Homo sapiens: one gene and its partner. The gene in region 2 interacts genetically with the main gene of each other region. Each region holds a gene or a part of one and is shown on either strand. Other genes may lie near its edges. The genes, in order: NUBP1 and PPAT.

What was found.
Region 1: changes in PPAT (region 2) and NUBP1 together harm fitness more than expected from each alone (negative genetic interaction), as found in Homo sapiens cells (one large-scale study listed by BioGRID).

The regions. Positions count from the first base shown.
Region 1 is NC_000016.10:10,746,612-10,750,434, reverse strand, and holds part of NUBP1 (cytosolic Fe-S cluster assembly factor NUBP1), read right to left. Parts: intron 3,293-3,823; coding exon 3,159-3,292; intron 1-3,158. UniProt on the Homo sapiens protein: Component of the cytosolic iron-sulfur (Fe/S) protein assembly (CIA) machinery. Required for maturation of extramitochondrial Fe-S proteins.
Region 2 is NC_000004.12:56,400,927-56,404,749, forward strand, and holds part of PPAT (amidophosphoribosyltransferase), read right to left. Parts: intron 2,476-3,823; coding exon 2,363-2,475; intron 2,260-2,362; coding exon 2,114-2,259; intron 1,256-2,113; coding exon 1,183-1,255; intron 556-1,182; coding exon 404-555; intron 1-403. UniProt on the Homo sapiens protein: Catalyzes the formation of phosphoribosylamine from phosphoribosylpyrophosphate (PRPP) and glutamine.

The DNA of each region.
Region 1 (3,823 bases), on a different chromosome or scaffold from region 2:
CCCTGTCTCTACTAAAAATACAAAAATTAGCTGGGTGTGGTGGCACACGCCTGTAATCCCAGGTACTCCAGAGGCTGAGGCAGAACTGCTTGAGCCCGGGAGGTGGAGGTTGCAGTGAGCTGAGATCACACCACTGCACTCCAGCCTGGGCAAAAGAATGAGACTCCGTCTCAAAAAAACAAACAAAAAAAGTTTAATTTATGGAAGTTGGTGACTTGTTATTTATTCATTGTTTTTGAGGTAGAGTCTCACTCTGTTGCCCAGGCTGGAGTGCAGTGGCATAATCACGGCTCACTGCAGCCTTGACTTCCCAGGCTCAAGTGATCCTCCTACCTCAGTCTCCTGAGTAGCTGGGACTACAGGTGCTTACCACCACACCTGGCTAACTTTTTTTATGTTTTATGTTTTGTAGAGACAGGGGTCTCACTTTGAAGCCCAGGCTGGGAGTCGGTGACTTTTGCAGTGGAAGACAGTGTATGACTCTTGGCTGTCTCATGGCTCAGGCTTATGCTACAGAGGCTCCTTCTGCCTTCACCACAACTTACACACTCCCTGGGCAGCCTGTGACTCGTCAGGGGTGTTTTCTAATTCTGCTCTCTCTTGATCCAAGGCCCTTTGTGCCAATGAGATGACAGGCGCCTGCCTGCCTCAAGCGCTAACATGGAATGGTCTTGCACAGAGTTAGAGCCAAGCTTCCACCAGATGGCAGGCAGAAAAAGGTCAGGGCATGTCCCACCACCCTGCTGGATTTAGGGCAGGGAGAAATCTGTGCTGCTTGACTTTAATCAAGACATATTCAGCATTTTCCATGTGTTGACACTTTGCAGATAGTGATGTCACTGTCATGAGTAGGTCTGCCTGGGGAAAACACACTTTCCTAAATGCTGACTTCTTTTTTTTTTAAACCACCACTGCATAAAAAAATACAGCTGATCTAGCCATATTTCCACACTGAATGGTGTGCTTTCCTTCTGTATACTGCAAAGTCTAGACAGGCATGCAGCAAAGACTTCAGAACGTAATTACATGAAAGTGAAGGATGTAAACAGTTGTCTACTCACAAGTGGTTACTTGCAAGTGGTGAGATGAAAGCCCATCTCCAGTGAGCTGTTTAGGAATATTCCTGACAGCTTCGAAAAGCAAAGATTCTTCTAAACGATACAGACAATCTGAGAAAGCAGATTTCTTGGCCAGCCCACTAGGCCAGTACAGATTTGACCCTCAAATGGCAAGAGATCGCTGACTCACAGAATGACGAATCAACGTGTGTGTGTGTGTGTGTGTGTGTGTGTGTGTGTGTGTGTGTGTATGTGTCTGTGTATCTATCTATATCCTTTTTTTTTTTTAAATGGAGTCTTGTCTGTCACCCAGGCTGGAGTGCAGTAGGGCAATCTTGGCCCACCGCGACCTCCGCCTCCTGGGTTCAAACGATTCTCATGCCTCGGCCTCCCGAGTAGCTAAGACTACAGGCACGTACCACCATGCCCAGCTAATTTTTGTATTTTTTAGTGGAGACAGGGTTTCACCATGTTGGCCAGGCTGGTCTCAAACTCCTGACCTCAAGTGATCCGCCTGCCTCAGCCTCCCAAAGTGCTGTGATTACAGTGTAAGCCACCATGCCCTGCCCAACAAGTGTATTTTGAATCTGCCCAGTACTATACCTTGGGTAGGCTACAAACTCATCTCTAAGGCAGATGTAATCATCATCCCTTCATATCCAGAGAGTGAAATAAAGTAATAAAAATGGTGGCCATCACAGACCTTTACTGAGCATTGACTATTCGTCGGGCCCCGTGCTAAGTGCTTTACTGTGCCATCTCACTCAGTCCTTGGAGTCCCATTTTATAGATGAGAAAACGGAGGCAGAGTAAGCCTGGTAACTTGCCCAAGGTCACAGCAGTGGTGTAGATGGAGCTGGGACCTGAGTTTGGGCTGTCTGACTCCAGAGTGTGTGCTCTTAGCGACCCACCAACCCCTTTTATTAAAGTTGAGATCCAGAGGGCAGCAGTGGGTAATCTGAGTTTTCATGCTCGTCTGTATGCATGGGTGGAAATGAATAAACTCGTGTAAGGGCCAGCAAAAATTTTCCACAAGGGCCAACAGCAAATATATTATTAGGCTTTGTGGGCAAAATCAAGGATCATATGTAGGTACTTAGGTACTAATTTAAAAATTGCAATTTTAGGCCAGGCACGGTGGCTCATGCCTATAATCTCAGCACTTTGGGAGGCCGAGGCAGGGGGACGCCTTGAGTTCAGAAGTTCAAGACTAGCCTGGGCAACATGGCAAAACCTCATCTCTACAAAAAACCCAAAAATTAGCCGGGCATGGTGGCAAGCACCTGTAGTCCCAGGTACTTGAGAGGCTGAGGTGGGAGGATAGCTTGATGAGCCCAGGAAGTAGAGGTTGCAATGAGTCCTGATCATAGCAATGCACTTCAGCCTGGGTGACAGAGTGAGATCCTGTCTCAAACAAACAAAAAACATTTCAAAAATGTGAACATTCTTAGTTCAAAGGCCATAAGGCAGGAGATGGGCTGGATTTGGCCCACTGGCTATAGTTTGCAGGTCCCTGGCTTAGAGAAAAGCTAAAAGGGGTTAATAAAGAGGAAAAAGAAGCGTGAACGTAATGTAATAAACTATCCACATGCAAGGACAGATGTACATCTGCTAGCCATTTTCTTGGCTAGGGAATCCAGTGAAATGCTTCATTTGACTACTGGGCATTTCTTTGCTCTCTGCCGGATTGAGATTCCAAAGAGGCCAATTCAACTTAGTATAAGGAATCATTTTTTTTTCTTCTTGGACAGTCTCATTCTGCCACCCAGGCTGGAGTACACTGGTACAATCTTGACTCACTGCAACCTCTGCCTCCTGGGCTCAAGCGATTCTCATGGCTCATCCTCGCGAAAAGCTGGGATTACAAGCCTGCGCTACCACGCCCAGCTAATATTTTGTATTTTTAGTAGAGACAAGGTTTTGCCATGTTGGCCAGGCTGATCTCAAACTCCTGGCCTCAAGTGATCTGCCCGCCTTGGCCTCCCAAAGTGCTGGGATTACAGGCATGAACCACTGCGCCTGGCCTAGGAATCAGTTATTTAGTAGCCATCACGACCCTCAGACAAAATGAGCATCTCCCAGTGGTTCCTGAGGTCTCACCTGTGTGTTTTCATCCTCTGCTAGGCCATGGGCAAGGTGGGCGCTGAATGTGCTTTTCCCAACACCGCCTTTCCCAGACAATACCAAGATTTTGTGTTTTACAGTCTTCATTTTCTCTTTGATTTCCTCTATAGCTGCAAAGAAAACCAAAGTTCAGGGGATGAGGTCCCACACCAAACCTCGAATGTCACGCTTCCAGTCAACTAGAAAGAGCTAAGTCCTAGTCCTAGTACTAGTCCTGGGGCTGTTTAAAACGATCCTCTGAAATACCTCTCAGACAATGGTAGAAATAAGTGCTAGGAAGAAAATAAGGCTATTATCACACTTGAAGGGGTCTCATTTATTGGTTTACACGTTTGTCTCCCCCAACTAGAACATAGTCTCCACAAAGGTAGGAACTGTCTGAAGCTTTCAGTGCTGTATTCCCAGCTCCAGAAGAGAACTTTGCAAACAGCAATGGTCACCAACTTGGGGACAAAATCCCCCAGAGACATTTGGTAATGTCTGGAGACACTGTTCTTTCTTTCTTTTTTTTTTGAGACAGAGTGTTGCTCTGTCGCCCAGGATGGAGTGCAGTGGCGTGATCTCGGCTCACTGCAACACTGCCTCCTGGGTTCAAGCGATTCTCCTGCCTTAGCCTCCCAAGTAGCTGGGATTACAGGTGC
Region 2 (3,823 bases):
AAGGAGAGAGAGTATTTTTACTTAGCATGATATAACAGTGTTATTCTAAAAAACTAGTGCTAGAATTCTACAGATTGAGTATAAAAAGAAATGCAATATATACAAAAATATGAATGTGAAAATACACAAACTGGGGAACTCAACTGTGTGGTTTTAAAAAAAAAATCGACCTTCATATAGATCTAGAAAATCATAATCCTTACTCCTAACAAAAAACAAAATCCAAGAGTCAAAAGGAAGTGAAAAATAGTGATCTTATGACTTGTGGGCTCAGTCCTATATCCACAACATATAACTATATGCCTTCAAAGAGCCAGGTAAGCCTTTGAGGCAAGAATTGCCATGTTTCAAGGAGATAGCTAAAACATTTATATGAATGTTCAAAGAAAAGAAATCTACTTACCTTCGAACATACTGTCTGGTCTTGCAAAATAAACATATTCAAAGATACAAAAAGCCACTGGGTTTCCTTCAGACCTTGATATAATATCAAGAGTTTGGACATTGTGTCTGGATATTTCCACAATTTCTCCAGGCAAGACTTCACGGTAATATCTTGGGAAACAATGTTAAAGAAAGAAGACTTTTAATAAACTAGTCCTTAAGGCTGATGAAAATATTAATTATAAAGCACACAGAGTACCTTCCCTTAGAGAAACAATTGATTCATTCAATATAAAATCTAGAAGTGACTTTTTAAAGTGGTATGTCTCCTGCAATGATTTCTTTATAATCTCTCTGTAAACACTAAGTTCTAGTATAGAATTAAAAAATTAAGGGCCCTAAGTTGTATTGAATTTTAAAAGAATAAAGTATAAAGAAAACATTTTCTCCTGGCTTACATTTTTCTGTCATAACTATCTCTCATTGAGGAAGTTCTTCCTTTCTAAAATAAGTCTCTATTTTCATATTGTACTGTAAAAAGAGAAAAATATACAAAATAAAGAAAATAAGTTTCATAGTATCTTGAAAGAATGCCAGCTTCAGAATTAGAAGCTATTACTAGAACATTAAACTCAGTGCAACTGCTGAGCATAACATGCATAAGAAAAACCATTTATAAATATTTTCTTGCAGACATCAAAAAGAAAACTTTCAAACTTTCACATAAATAAGAAACTGTCTAAAAAAAATTCTTTTCAACATGGGAAAATAAAATATGTCAAACAAGGTAAAACTTACCTTGCACCAATAGATAAGAAGCTACAAGATTCTGAAGACACCACCCATCCTTCTGTTTCTGATGTTTTTTTCTCTGTAAATCACAAATCAATTCAATTAATGGATTCCAGAAATTTTAAGAGGCTATTTCAATGGAACAGCTAACACTAAATAAATAAGTAAATAAAACTCATAGAATAGCCATTTCTATGACTTTAAGAGCACATGGATCCTCATTTGACTTGAGCCAAAGATAAAATAAATGATCTTCTAAGATTCCTTCTAACATTATGATTTCATGGCTAGAAAAAGATATCTTGATAAAAGTGAAAAGAAACCACTAAAATCATACTGCAGAAATGAAAAAGCTAGGCAAAGGACATGAATAGCCAATTAAGACAGGAAAAAATAGGAATCTCTATTAAAAACATTAAAAGGGATTCATCCAGCCAGGCGTGGTGGCTCACGCCTGTAATCCCAGCACTTTGGGAGGCTAAGGTGGGCAGATCACCTGAGGTCAGGAGTTTGAGACCAGCCTGACCAACATGGAGAAACCCTGTCTCTACTAAAAATACAAAATTAGCTGGGTATGGTGGTGTGCGCCTGTAATCCCAGCTACTCGGGAGGCTGAGGTAGGAGAATCACTTGAACCTGGGAGGTGGAGGTTGCAGTGAGCTGAGATCGCACCACTGCACTCCAGCAGCCTGGGCAACAAGAGTGAAACTCGGTCTCCAAAAAAAAAAAAAAAAAAAAAAAAAAAAGGGGGGGGACTCATCCTCAGGAGTACTCAAAGAAACGTACTTTAAAAAGGAAGAATACATTTATTTTTATTTTTCTTACCTAGCTCCCTCCCACCCATCAACTTTCTATACCTAAAGATTTCAGGGCTTGATAGCAGTAGGACAATAATGGAAAAACACTATGAAATGATATTCCTTCTAAAGTTTATTACCTTTGTCATTTATATCAGACACTGGAATAAGACGACCAATGCATAAGGGACGATTTCCATAAGGATCTCGTACTGCATAAATAACATCTCTGTGCATTATAAGCAGGGAGTATGCTGTGGGTGCTTCCTTCATCAAGTTTTTAATCCTGGAATTAATTAAATAATTGAATGAATAACTTCAGTTATAAACATATGCAAGGCAAAACTCTCCTTACTAGAGCTCTAAGTTTAGTCCAGTTCTCTGCTTACCTGGCTACCCAGTCTGGGGTGTCATCTTGTTCCTGAGGAGGGGTATACGCCAGTAACTGGGTAATCATTTCACTATCAGAACTTGTAGACAGACCAATACCATGACGCAGAAGCTATATAGAAAAAAAGAGAAGTTTAATCATCAGAGGGGAAGCTCCACCCCACCCCAAACCCAGTAGCCAACCATAATGAAAATAAGGCATTCTGTGGATGTCCAGTTACAAAAATCCTGCATCCCACTAATGCAGCAGTCCCCAACCTTTTTGGCACCAGGGACCAGTTTGGTGGAAGACAATTTTTCCATGGACCAGGGACAGGGGATGATTTGGGGATGATTCAAGCGAATTACATTTATTGTGCACTTTATTTCTATTATTACTATACTGTAATATATAATGAAATAATTATACAACTCACCATAATCTAGAATCAGTGGGAGCCCTGAGCTTGTTTTCCTGCAACTAGACAGTCCCATCTGGGGGTGATGGGAGACAGTAACAGATCATCAGGCATTATACATTAGCTTCTCATAAGGAGAGCACAACCTGGATCCCTTGCATGCACAGCTCACAACAGGGTTCATGCTCCTAGGAGAATCTAATGCTGCTGCTGATCTGGACAGGAGACAGAGCTCAGGTGGTAATAGTGAGCGATGGGGAGCACCTATAAATACAGATGAAGTTTCACTTACCACTCACCTCCTGCTGTGTGGCCTGGTTCCTAACAAGCCACAGACTGGTACTAGTCCCTAGCACAGGGGTTGGGGACTCCTGCGCTAATAGTATGTATATACTAATAACGGATGACCATGGCTGGAGGCAATAGGAAATCTAGAAGATTTTCAAGCAGGAAAAATGTGCTTTATGAGATGTACAGAAAAGCTTTTGAATACTAAATCTGAAGGCAAGCAGACCTGAAAGTGGGTAGGGGTTCCCAAAAATTTGATTTGTGGGTCTGACATTTTCTACCCTCAACACTCTTGATGAACTGGGTATATTCCTATAAAAGTAGTACACTACAGTGATAACTTTCAAGCTGGGTTTGTTAGTGATCATAATGGTGGCTACCCATCCTCATTGATTATTACTGATAGAAGAAAGTAATCAACTGTATTGAACAATGAAATGTAGCAGATGTAATAAATATCGCTTGAGTGTACTCTATGATAATTACAAAGTTCTGAGCAGGACTGACCAAGACAAGGGCAGCCCCATGGACATGCACAGATTGAGTCTGAATGGGCACTACAGAACATTTTCAGTAGGGAGCTAAAGGTAAAGATAAAGTTTAGCATCTAGGTAAGTCATTATGTCAGGAAACAGTGAGTTAGTGGTTATCTCTAAGTGGTGAATTTTTAAGAAATTTTTACTCCATATTTATACTTTCATGATTGTCTGAATTTTTAAATGAACTATGTATTTTTTCATTTGGGGACAGAAAAGCACAATAAGGTCATTATAA